Homo sapiens: one gene and its partners. The protein of the gene in region 1 purifies or fractionates together with the protein of each later gene. This does not show direct contact. Each region holds a gene or a part of one and is shown on either strand. Other genes may lie near its edges. The genes, in order: SSX3, NCS1 and C10orf88.

What was found.
Region 2: the proteins of SSX3 (region 1) and NCS1 purify together in Homo sapiens (affinity purification with mass spectrometry; one large-scale study listed by BioGRID and IntAct). This does not show direct contact.
Region 3: the proteins of SSX3 (region 1) and C10orf88 purify together in Homo sapiens (affinity purification with mass spectrometry; one large-scale study listed by BioGRID and IntAct). This does not show direct contact.

What each region holds. Positions count from the first base shown.
Region 1 is NC_000023.11:48,350,204-48,353,858, forward strand, and holds part of SSX3 (protein SSX3), read right to left. Parts: intron 1,947-3,655; coding exon 1,897-1,946; intron 1-1,896. UniProt on the Homo sapiens protein: Could act as a modulator of transcription.
Region 2 is NC_000009.12:130,220,767-130,224,421, reverse strand, and holds part of NCS1 (neuronal calcium sensor 1), read right to left. Parts: intron 1,773-3,655; coding exon 1,684-1,772; intron 1,341-1,683; coding exon 1,263-1,340; intron 1-1,262. UniProt on the Homo sapiens protein: Neuronal calcium sensor, regulator of G protein-coupled receptor phosphorylation in a calcium dependent manner. Directly regulates GRK1 (RHOK), but not GRK2 to GRK5. Can substitute for calmodulin. Stimulates PI4KB kinase activity.
Region 3 is NC_000010.11:122,947,694-122,951,348, forward strand, and holds part of C10orf88 (ATPase PAAT), read right to left. Parts: intron 1,163-3,655; coding exon 956-1,162; intron 1-955. UniProt on the Homo sapiens protein: ATPase that regulates mitochondrial ABC transporters ABCB7, ABCB8/MITOSUR and ABCB10. Regulates mitochondrial ferric concentration and heme biosynthesis and plays a role in the maintenance of mitochondrial homeostasis and cell survival.

The DNA of each region.
Region 1 (3,655 bases):
CATTAGCTTATTCAATGTTCTCAACAACACTGGGAGAGTTACACAGGCCTAAATTAGGAGAAACCTGGGAGGGGAGGTTAGAAGGGAAAGGAATGGCCTAAGTGAATATGGTTTCCAGGGATAGAATGCTTATCTTCCCACTCTTTTAGGACTCACATTCTTGCAAACAGCAAAAATCTCCATTTAATTGAGAGTGTGATATACAGATGATTTGGAGAAGAGTAGCATTCTAAGAATTCACAAGGTCTACAAAGGGAAGAGGTTCTGTAAAATACAAGGGATCCCATATAAGCTTGTAGACAGCTGCTGGGAGAGTAAATGTAAAAACATAGGGAGGCGACAAAACACTGCTGGGAAAGATGGTGTGGGGAGATGAACACAAGGAAGGGAGAGGGAAATAAATGGCTTGCTGAAATTAATCTAGGCAGCAAACAAAGCAGTACCAGATATGACATACTACCCTACCGAGGCACCAATTGAATGTGGAATTCAGTGAGGTGGTACCCATACCAATTCTGGTTGCATTGGGATGTGTACTGACCAACAATCTTAAGCTGCTTTCTTTTTCTTTTTTTTTTTTTTTTTTGAGACGGAGTCTTGCTGTGTCGCCAGAATGGGGAGCCGTGGCATGATATCGGCTCAAGGCAATATCTGACTCCCGCGTTTAAGCGATTCTCCTTCCTTAGCCTCCAGAGTATCTGGGACTACAGGCAGGCACTACCACGCCCCACTAAGTTTTGTATTTTTAGTAGAGACGAGGTTTCACCATGTTGGGCAGGATGGTCTCGATCTCCTGACCTTGTGATCTGCCCGACTCAGCCTCCCAAAGTGCTGGGATTACAGTCGTGAGCCACCGCGCCCTGATCTTAAGCTACTTTTAATTCAGCTTCCTCCCTTATGAAATAGTGAACCATACATGTAAAATAGGCTACAAGAAAGTGCTCTCTGAGCTTGTAAACACTCTTTAAATGTAGTAATAATAACAATTAATACCTTTCACAATCCTTCTTTGAATTCAGTCTCCACACTGGCAACCCAACTCCCAGATCCCTTTACCCTCCAAACCAGAGTTGAATCTGCACTTGTGGGATCACTCATTCAGGGGCCTCCGAGGGATCCCCTGGGCTGGGACTGGGGCTTCCCAGACGCCCCAGGTGCAGACAAGGCACTCAAGGAGCTCACAGTAGGGAGGGGCCAACAATCAAAGCGATTCCTAAGCCATGCAAGTGGCCCCAGTAACACAGCAGAGACCAGATGGTCCTTCCTGTTGCGAGAGTGGGTGTCTCAATGGAAGCACCAGCAGGCCCTATGGGGTGAAGCCCTAGTGAGCAACATCTGAACTTCATAAACAAATGCAAACGTGAATGAGCTTTAAATGGCTTGGAGCTCTGGATTAGACTACCACTGACACTGCGCCTCAGGAAAATTCTTTAACATCTCTGTACCACGATAGCCTCATTTTATTATTATGTTGCTGATAACTATGATCTAAAACATAAACTATAATTCTTTACTTCCATTTCATGGACCAGGAATCTGGAGCTCAGAGAACTCAGAAGATTTGTGCCAAGTCATATGGCTATCATATGGATGAAAACTGAAATGTGTTACTCATTATTATTCGGAGATAATAGAAACAATGTCTTCTTAAGGATTAAATAAATTAATCCATGTGAACTGCTTGAAATAGTATCTGGCATCACTATGAAAACAAAAGAGGTATGAACAATCACAAATGTTGGTACTATCAAGCCGTCGGTGCTACATCAGGTGTTGTGATAGACATGGGGAGAAGAAGGCAGTGAGGGCATTGTTGATATTCTCCCACTCTTACCAGTGTTCGCATCCTTGGAGGGACAAAGGTTCTCTGGTCCTTTAGATCTGAAAGATACTCACCTTCGGGAAGATTCCCTGGAGCCTGCCGAAAGTCATCTGAGGACGTTGAACTGAAAGAGAATACATCAGAATTTTTCATTGTTGGTAAAGGTTTCCAAACTCTAGAGAGACTTCTGTCGCATCAGGGTATTCTGCAGCAGAGGCTTATGAGTCCACGCATTGTTGAGGAGTTATTTCAGATTTGCTTCTGAATTATGTTTAGTCATGGTTGATGCATTTATCTGTGGCATCAATTCAGAATTTTCCATCTCATGGTTTATCACATGGGGACTACACCCCATCACAGTCTCATCTTATTCGATTACATATCTTTTACTTTTTCCCAAATAATTAAATTGATTGGTTAGGAATCTGAACTGTATCCACTCAAGATGTGCAACAACTGAAAATCATTGTACACTTCAAATGGGTGAATCTTATGGTATGTGAATTAAGCTGTTAAATGTGTGGTGAACCACGGATGATTTGGTCCAGTGGCTCTGAAAGATTTTCAGTACAAAGACAGTCCTTTAACGTTAAAAACTTGGCAGATACTCAAGCACTGGCTTTTCAGATCTCTTATAGTGATTGCGGGAGATTGTAGAATCTGGCCTGTTTAGTTGGCGAGTAATAGGTCTATTGGAGACGGTTTGGACATTCTGACCTTGTCTTATAATTATGTTGTCAGAGTAGAAGAGCAAGTAAATACATATGTCCCCTTTATTTTCCTGAAATGCACAAAGCTCTCTACCCAAGAACCTGTCTTTTTTTCATCCTATGTTATCTCTGTTCTCTGACAAGTGGGAAAGCTCTCTGTGTTTTCGATAAGGGATCACTCTTTCAAACTCTCTTTCAAGCTCATCACAGAGAATCAGGGTTATTTGGGAATGAGAAGACTATTTGGTTTTGATAAAATACAGAGAAACAGCGATCTTTATTACATAATGTGTTCATCAACCTCACTCCTAAGATACCTATCCAATACCTACATGCTGTTAATGAAACAACCTCTGGAAGTTTTTGGCGGATCTACAGTTTTAACACTTTCTTTCTTTTTTTTTTTTTTCACTTGTAACATTTTCTTAACTGTCCTTTGATACATTAACAGTGCTTAGGAAGAACAACATGTCATTTAAAAAAGAAATATTTCAAACACACAGAAAAGTATGGGGAATAATATTGAGTCCAGTCGGATCTCAACATTACCCCACAGCTAAGTTAGGTCTGATTTATTTATTCAGAATATTAGAAAAACTGCAAACAGGCCGGGCGTGGTAGCTCACACTTGTAATCCCAGCAGTTTGGAAGGCTGAGGCGGGTGGATCACCTGAGGTCAGGAAGTTTGAGACCAGCCTGGCCAACATGGTGAAACCCCGTCTCTACCATAAATTAAAAAATGAGCTGAGTGTGGGGGCACGTGCGTGTAACCCCAGCTACTCGGGAGGCTGAGGCAGAAGAATCACTTGAACCCAGGAGGTGAAAGTTGGAGTGAGCTGAGATTGCCTTATTGCACTCCACCCTGGCCGAGAAGAGTGAAACTCCATCTCAAAAACAAAAACAAACAAAACACACTATCAACAAGTCACAGCTGAAGCTGTCTGTGCAGCACTCAGCAATCCCTGCCCTCCCTCCCTCCTCCACTTACAGCCAGTCACCTTAGTTTGATGGCTTTTTATTCACATTCATGTTTGTATACATTTACCATTTACTTATTATCCATAAAAATATATATTCTTCTTTTGCATGTTTTAAAATTTTATATGAATGACCTCTGTAGTTA
Region 2 (3,655 bases), on another chromosome or scaffold:
CATGCCTGGATAATTTTTTTTTTTTTTTTTGAGACTGCGTCTCACTCTGTTGCCCAGGCTGGAGTGCAATGGCGCGATCTCCACTCACTGCAACTGCTGCCTCCCGGATTTTTTTTTTTTTTTTTTTTTAGTAGAGAAAGGGATTCACCATGTTGGCCAGGCTGGTCTCGAACTCCTGACCTCAGGTGATTCACCCGCCTCGGCCTCCCAAAATGCTGGGATTACAGGTGTGAGCCACCACACCTGGCTTTGGTTCCCTTTAAAGAAGGGTTTCTTGGCCAGGCACGGTGGCTCACGCCTATAATCCCAGCACTTTGGGAGGCCGAGGCTGGTGGATCACGAAGTCAGGAGATCGAGACCATCCTGGCTAACACGGTGAAATCCCGTCTCTACTAAAAATACAAAAAATTAGCCAGGTATGGTGGCATGCGCCTGTAGTCCCAGCTACTCGGGAGGCTGAGGCAGGAGAGTTGCGTGAACCCAGGCGGCAGAGCTTGCAGTGAGCCGAGATCGCGCCCGCCACTGCACTCCAGCCTGGGTGACAGGGCGAAGATTCTGTCTCAAAAAAAAAGAGAAGGGTTTCTTAACCTTGGGCCTGTGGATAGAAGTCAGCAGGTCTATGAACTTGGGGGAAAAAAAATCAGCCTTTTTTTACTAACCTCTAACTGAAATGTAGCTTTTCCTTTGATGGAAACCTAGGCGACGGTCCCCAACAGGACCTGCAGTACCTGTGATCTGTCGACAGTAGGGATCACAGGTATTTTCATAACACACCCTAGTTGCTGCAGATATTACAGCTCGCAATTTCGGGGGTTGCTGGACCCACCACTACATCTTAGTGAATGCGTTAAGAAAGCAGCTCACAGAACGCTACATCACAGATTCTTTTTTTAAAATACTCTGACAGCTGTTTTCTAAAATAATCAGCTTCCTTTTTGATCTTATGGATTTTATTTTATGCGCTTAAAGCCATTATGCTGAGAAGTCTGTAGGCTTCTCCAGAATGCCAAAGGGGTCCATGGCAAACAAAAAAAAAAGGCTAAGGACTCTGGTTGATTAAAGAAAACATGCTGAGCAAACTGACTTAAGACTCTGGACACTGGATGGGGCTAGCTGCTGAGCAGGGATAGGACACCGTGCCGCCTGCCGTGAGCCATGGAGGAGGTTGGCAGCAAAGCCAGGCCCAGGATCCAGGGACTCCAATTCCTGCCCCCGACACCTTGCCTCCCTGGTCCAGGACCAGCCCCGCCCCCCCACCTCACCTTATCCATCATGGCAAAGATCCGGTCCACCCTCTTCTCAGGAGTGTTCTCCTCCTCTGGGAGCTCCACGGTATTCCCCTGCAGGGACGGACAAGGCGGGGGTGGGCCCTGGCACTCTGGGCTTTGGGCTCTTGGCCACGCATTTGCCCCCCAGACCTGGCAGTTTCCAGATGAGGGCCGCCCCCCTCTTCTTTCCCCTCCCCATCCCTGCCATTGTGCCCTGGAACATCCCACACCCCAGCCCCACTATCTACCAGCTTGTGCCTGCCTGCCCAGGCAGAGATGTACAGAACGGCTCAGCCAGTGACCCCTGCTTCCACCCTGGGCAGGAGCATGGCTGCACAAGTGCTCTCTCTCTGTCTCTCAGTCACTGGCTTTGCCCCTCCTGCCACCCCTAACCACACGAGACCCGGCTTCTCACCACCATCTGGTAAATGGCATCCACAATGTCCAGCATCTCATTCCTGGTGATGTAGCCATCATTGTCCAAGTCGTAGAGCTTGAAGGCCCCTGTAAGCAAGCAGCACTGCTGAGTGATCCTGGGCTGGGGCAGTGGGGAGGGGTCTTCAACTCGCCCCTCCTCTCTGTACCCCAACATGAAGTCAGCGACCGGATGGCCCATTCCTCATCAGGTCAACTAATATTTACATCAGGATAGACAGGGACAGACACACACACACCATTGCAACTAGGGTTAAAAAAAATAAGGCTGGGCATGGTGGCTCACACCTGTAATCCCAGGACTTTGGGAGGCTGAGGTGAGCAGACTGCTTGAGCCCAGGAGTTCGAGACCAGCCTGGACAACATGGCAAAACCCCGTCTCTACAAAAATACAAAAATTAGCCAGGCCTGGTGGCGGTGCCTGTAGTTCCAGCTACTTGGGAGGTTGAGGTGGGAGGATGGCTTGAGCCCAGGAGGCGAAGTTTGCAATAAGCCGAGATCAAGCCACTGCACTCCAGCCTGGGTGACAGAGCAAGTCTCTCTCCCTCTCTCTCTCTGTATATACATATATATATACGTATATATATATACACATATATATATACGTATATATATATACACACACACATATATATATTTATAGATACATAATTTATATTTATGTATATATATTTATAGATACATAATTTATATTTATGTATATATATTTATATACATAATTTATATTTATGTATATATATTTATATACATAATTTATATTTATGTATATATATTTATATATACATAATTTATATTTATGTATATATATTTATATATACATAATTTATATTTATGTATTATGTATATATATTTATATATACATAATTTATATTTATGTATATATATTTATATATACATAATTTATATTTATGTATATATATTTATATATACATAATTTATATTTATGTGTATATATATATTTATTTATTTATAAATTAAAAATAACAGGGCCAGGCACAGTGACTCACCCCTATAATCCCAGCACTTTGGGAGGCCGAGGCGGGCAGATCACCTGAGGTCAGGAGTTGGAGAACAGCCTGGCCAACAGGATGAAACCCCTTCTCTACTAAAAATACAAAAATTAGCCAGGTGTGGTGGCGGGCGCCTGTAGTTCCAGCTACTTGGGAGGAGGTGAGAGGATGGCTTGAGCCCAGGAGGCGAAGGTTGCAATAAGCCGAGATCGAACTACTGCACTCTAGCCTGGGTGACAGAGCAAGACTCTCTCTTTCTCTCTCTCTCTCTCTCTCTCTCTCTCTCTCTCTCTCTATATATATATATATATATATATATATATATATATATGATATTTTATATATATATTAAATATTTTATATATATATATATTAAAAATAACAGGGCCAGGCACGGTGGCTCACACCTGTAATTCCAGCACTTTGGAAGGCCAAGGTGGGTGGATCATCTGAGGTCAGGAGTTCGAGACCAGCCTGGCCAACATGGCGAAACCCCATTTCTACTAAAAACACAAAAATTAGCCAGGTGTGGTGGCACATGCCTGTAATCCCAGCTACTTGGGAGGCTGAAGCAGGAGAATTGCTTGAACCCAGGAGGCAGAGATTGTAGTGGGCCGAGATTGTGCCACTGCACTCCAGCCTGAGCAACAGAGCGAGACTCTGTCTATAAATAAATAAACAAATAAAATAAAGGGATGGGGCATTGGGCTGCCAGGGCCGAGGTATCAGTGGCTGGAGCTGAGTGCGTGGGAGAGCCCGGGGCCTGGGATGTTACCCAGAGGAGCACCCCTCTCCTTCCCCCAACTCCAGCCCCCACCTCCTCCCCACAGTCCACTCTGCTCCCACAATTATGGTGTGGCCTGCTACAGTCAACATTAGAAAATAAAATAGTGCATTGAGAGGAGGAGCTTTTGCATAAATAAAGTTCTCTTTTATTTCTTA
Region 3 (3,655 bases), on another chromosome or scaffold:
GCTAAAAGTCAATGTTCCCAAAATTAAATTCCTTTTTCCTCCAAGCATCCTCCTCCTTTGGGCTGCATTTATATTATTAGTATCACCATCTTCAAAGCCTCAATTTCATGTTTAACTTGATTTTTCTATCATAATACCAATATTAAGTTAGCTGTCAAGTCCCAATGGCTCCATCATTTTAGCATCATTTAGCATCCAGCATTATGTTACTACGTCCAATCTTAGACCTCATTCACTCTCATCTGGACGAGGGGAATGACGTGCAGCTCATCTTCTCCTTGTAGTCTCACTTTCTTCAGATTCACCTTACACTTGACAGTGGCTTAAAATTTCTTGAAACATAAGTCAAAAACATCTACAAATTTAAACCAGCATCCCAAGCTGTTTATGATCTAGCTGAAATCTACTTTAAACTTTGCCTATTACTTTTTTGCTTCAGAGAAATGAACTACCATTCATTTCCCAGCTATATCAAATTCTTCTAGCATTGAAGATTTTATTCACCTTATTTTTTGTCTGAAATGGCCTTCTTCCAAATTTACTTGTCTAATCCCACCCTACATTTTAAAGGCCTAGATAAAATACCACTTCTTTTAGTGAGCCTTTCCTTAGTGTTTTCATCATTCCCCACTTACATGCTCCAGAATGTAAAAATTCTTAAAGACTACAGATTAACTGACCATCTTCGCACACTCAAAATTGCTCAAACCAGTGCCTTGTTTACTGCAAGAAAAAAATCTTGCTGAATGAATGAATGCATTCATAAAAAGTGTGAAAATGTGTAGTCAAAACACTTTGTAGAAGGGCAAATCTAACAAATGTTAACTTCTACAAAACTAAAAGATAACAGTTAAATCAGTATGAAAGAAAAATTTTAAGTCACTACATTTCTTTACTAAAAGCAATGGTTTTGAAATCATTAATGTTATCTGGAAAGAAATCCATTTCTACTTACCCGCTGCTGACACCTAACCATATCCATCAACTGCTGAGCTCCAGGAGATAACTTTGACCCCATGGACTCCATTATGGTTTGGACCTTGTCAAGGTCTATCCTTGATCCTAGAGCAGGAGAGCTTGTTGAAGAATTTGCAAAAACTGATCTCATGTGTACCACAACTTTACTGATGAACACACACTGCCTTTCGCCAAAGGAGAGCAACTATTATAAAACAAAAGTTCCAGAAAAGAATGATATTAAAAACAATAATCATTTAATGTAACTTCTTGGTATGACCTAAACAAGAGTGAAGTATTCAAGAATCTAAAAATTAACTTCAAGTATATTTTAAACTTTTCTCTAGAACAGCAATAGTCAGGAAAAATTCCAATTTATCATGAGGCTCAGATGAACTATTTAAATAAGAGTCCTTTCAAAAATTAAGACTTCATGTAAAATAACAAATGAGGTGATTAAATAAATGTTTACCTATTTAAAGAACTAAAAATAAACTATAGTAGTTCCTCTTTATCTGTGGAGAATGTGTTCTAAGACCTCCAGTGGCTCCCTGAAATTGCATATAGTACCAACCCCTATATTTTTTCCTATACATACATACCTATGATAAAGTTTAATTTATAAATTAGGTATAGTAAGAGTTTAACAATAGAGTAATTTTGACAACATAATAAAAGTTATGTGAATATGGTCTCCTCTCTCTAAATCTTACTGTGCAATACTTACCCTTCCTGTAATGACGTGACATGATAAAATGCCTACATAATGAGATGAAGTGAGGTGAATGACACAGGCATTGTAATACAGGATTAGGCTACTACTGACCTTCTGATGATACATTTGGCTAGTAAGTGGCTAATGGGCAGTAACATATACAGCAGGGACATACTAGACAAAAGGATGATTCATGTTCCAGACAGGACTGAGCAGGATGGCAGGAGATTCGATCACACTACGCTGAATGAAGCACAATTTAAAACTTATGAATTGTTTATTTCTGAAATTTTCCATTTAATATTTTTGGACCTCAGTTGACTGTGGGTAATGGAAACTGTGGAAAGTGAAACTGCAGATAAAGGAGAACTGCTATATACCAATCTGAGACCTTAACACACCACAACTTGCTACTTAACACAAAATAAGTCTGTCCAAATGCTCATGTAAAACGTTTACTGAAATAAGTAAAATGCAATCCTTTCAAATTCAGAACTATAAGAGAATATCAAAATGATGTAATATAGCTTGCTGGATTACACATAGAAATGATGACTTCAAGGGTGATTTTTCTAACTTGTTAAAGGACACTCAATTAGTAAAGAACCAGCTTGAAACCTATCTCTTCTGGCTTCTATCCCTGTAGTTTATCCAACATTTTATCCTGTCCATATTTCTGAAACGAGACATTTCATGTATGGTACAGACAACAGAGTAGCAAAATGGAAAGGGAACGGACTTTAGAATCAGACAAACCTAAGTTTAACTTACGACTCTGGTACTTAACAACCTGTGTGACCCTGGGCAAATGCTAAATCTGAGTCAGGATAAAAATGAGAGAAGACAGTAGCAATGATTTCACATAGTTGTTGCGAGGATTATATGTTAAAATTTCCAGTAGCTACCAGTAAGTAAGTGCTCAAAAACCTGTATAAGTAACCATTTTTTTATTTGAACTTCCATATACTATTGCCTCAGAACAAGCTTTCATATCAATCCTAGAGCTTCCCTGAAATAACCCTTTGCACTCCCATGTACCTCCATTGAACAGTTAAAAAAACATTCACCTTCAGAGAGACACACAGGTCCACATGTCAAACAAGGACATAGGTCAATACAGACTCATGATCCAAGAACTCTTAAGTGTTGAACCAAAGATGTGACTGTCTTCAACATTTTAAGGAAACACTCTTATTAACCTCCTACCTCTCAACCTCTCTATTATCCCCCTTTCTCTTTTTAACCCCATAGCCTTTTTCACCATTAAATATAGTATTTATTTTACTCATTGAGTCTCCTTATTGTCTGTCTTGCCCACTAGAATACAAGCAACATAAGTTCAGGCATTTCAGTTTATTTTCTTATTGCTAATTCCTAAATGACTGGTATAGTACCTGACATTAAGAGGCACTCAAATCTTTGTTGAATGAAGAAATTACTTTATTCAAATGGTTTTAGAAGCTATTTAATATATACTATCCAAAACAACATCTTGGGATAATCAGTCCTGTGAGTTTGCTATCTGCCTGTAAAAATCACTTATTTTTTCTTATTGTAAAAATAGGTTTCAATCTTCTATAAGTAATGATAATAAGTACAGAAGTTTAGAGATAAAAAGAATCCAAGAATTTTCTTCAGCTCTCTAATTTTACCCATGAGATAGGTCCAAAATCTGCCCAAGACTAATCCACTAGTCAGGACAGAACTGAATTAGCATTCAGGGCTTAAGACTTCCAATCCATTACCTTATCCCTAGACTCTGAAGACATAACTAACAGTTACCTTAACAATATTTTTCATGCTGAAGACAACAGTCCAATCCCTTTAACTTATTGGTTCTCTTGCTTGAAACTTCTCTAATTTTGTTCTTTTATAAATGGGTTTTTGCCATCACAGTTTATATAGTTTTTAAAAATGTTTTTTGCTCAATTTCCCAACACTTCAAAATACACAGCACTACCATATTAACAATACATTATCCAA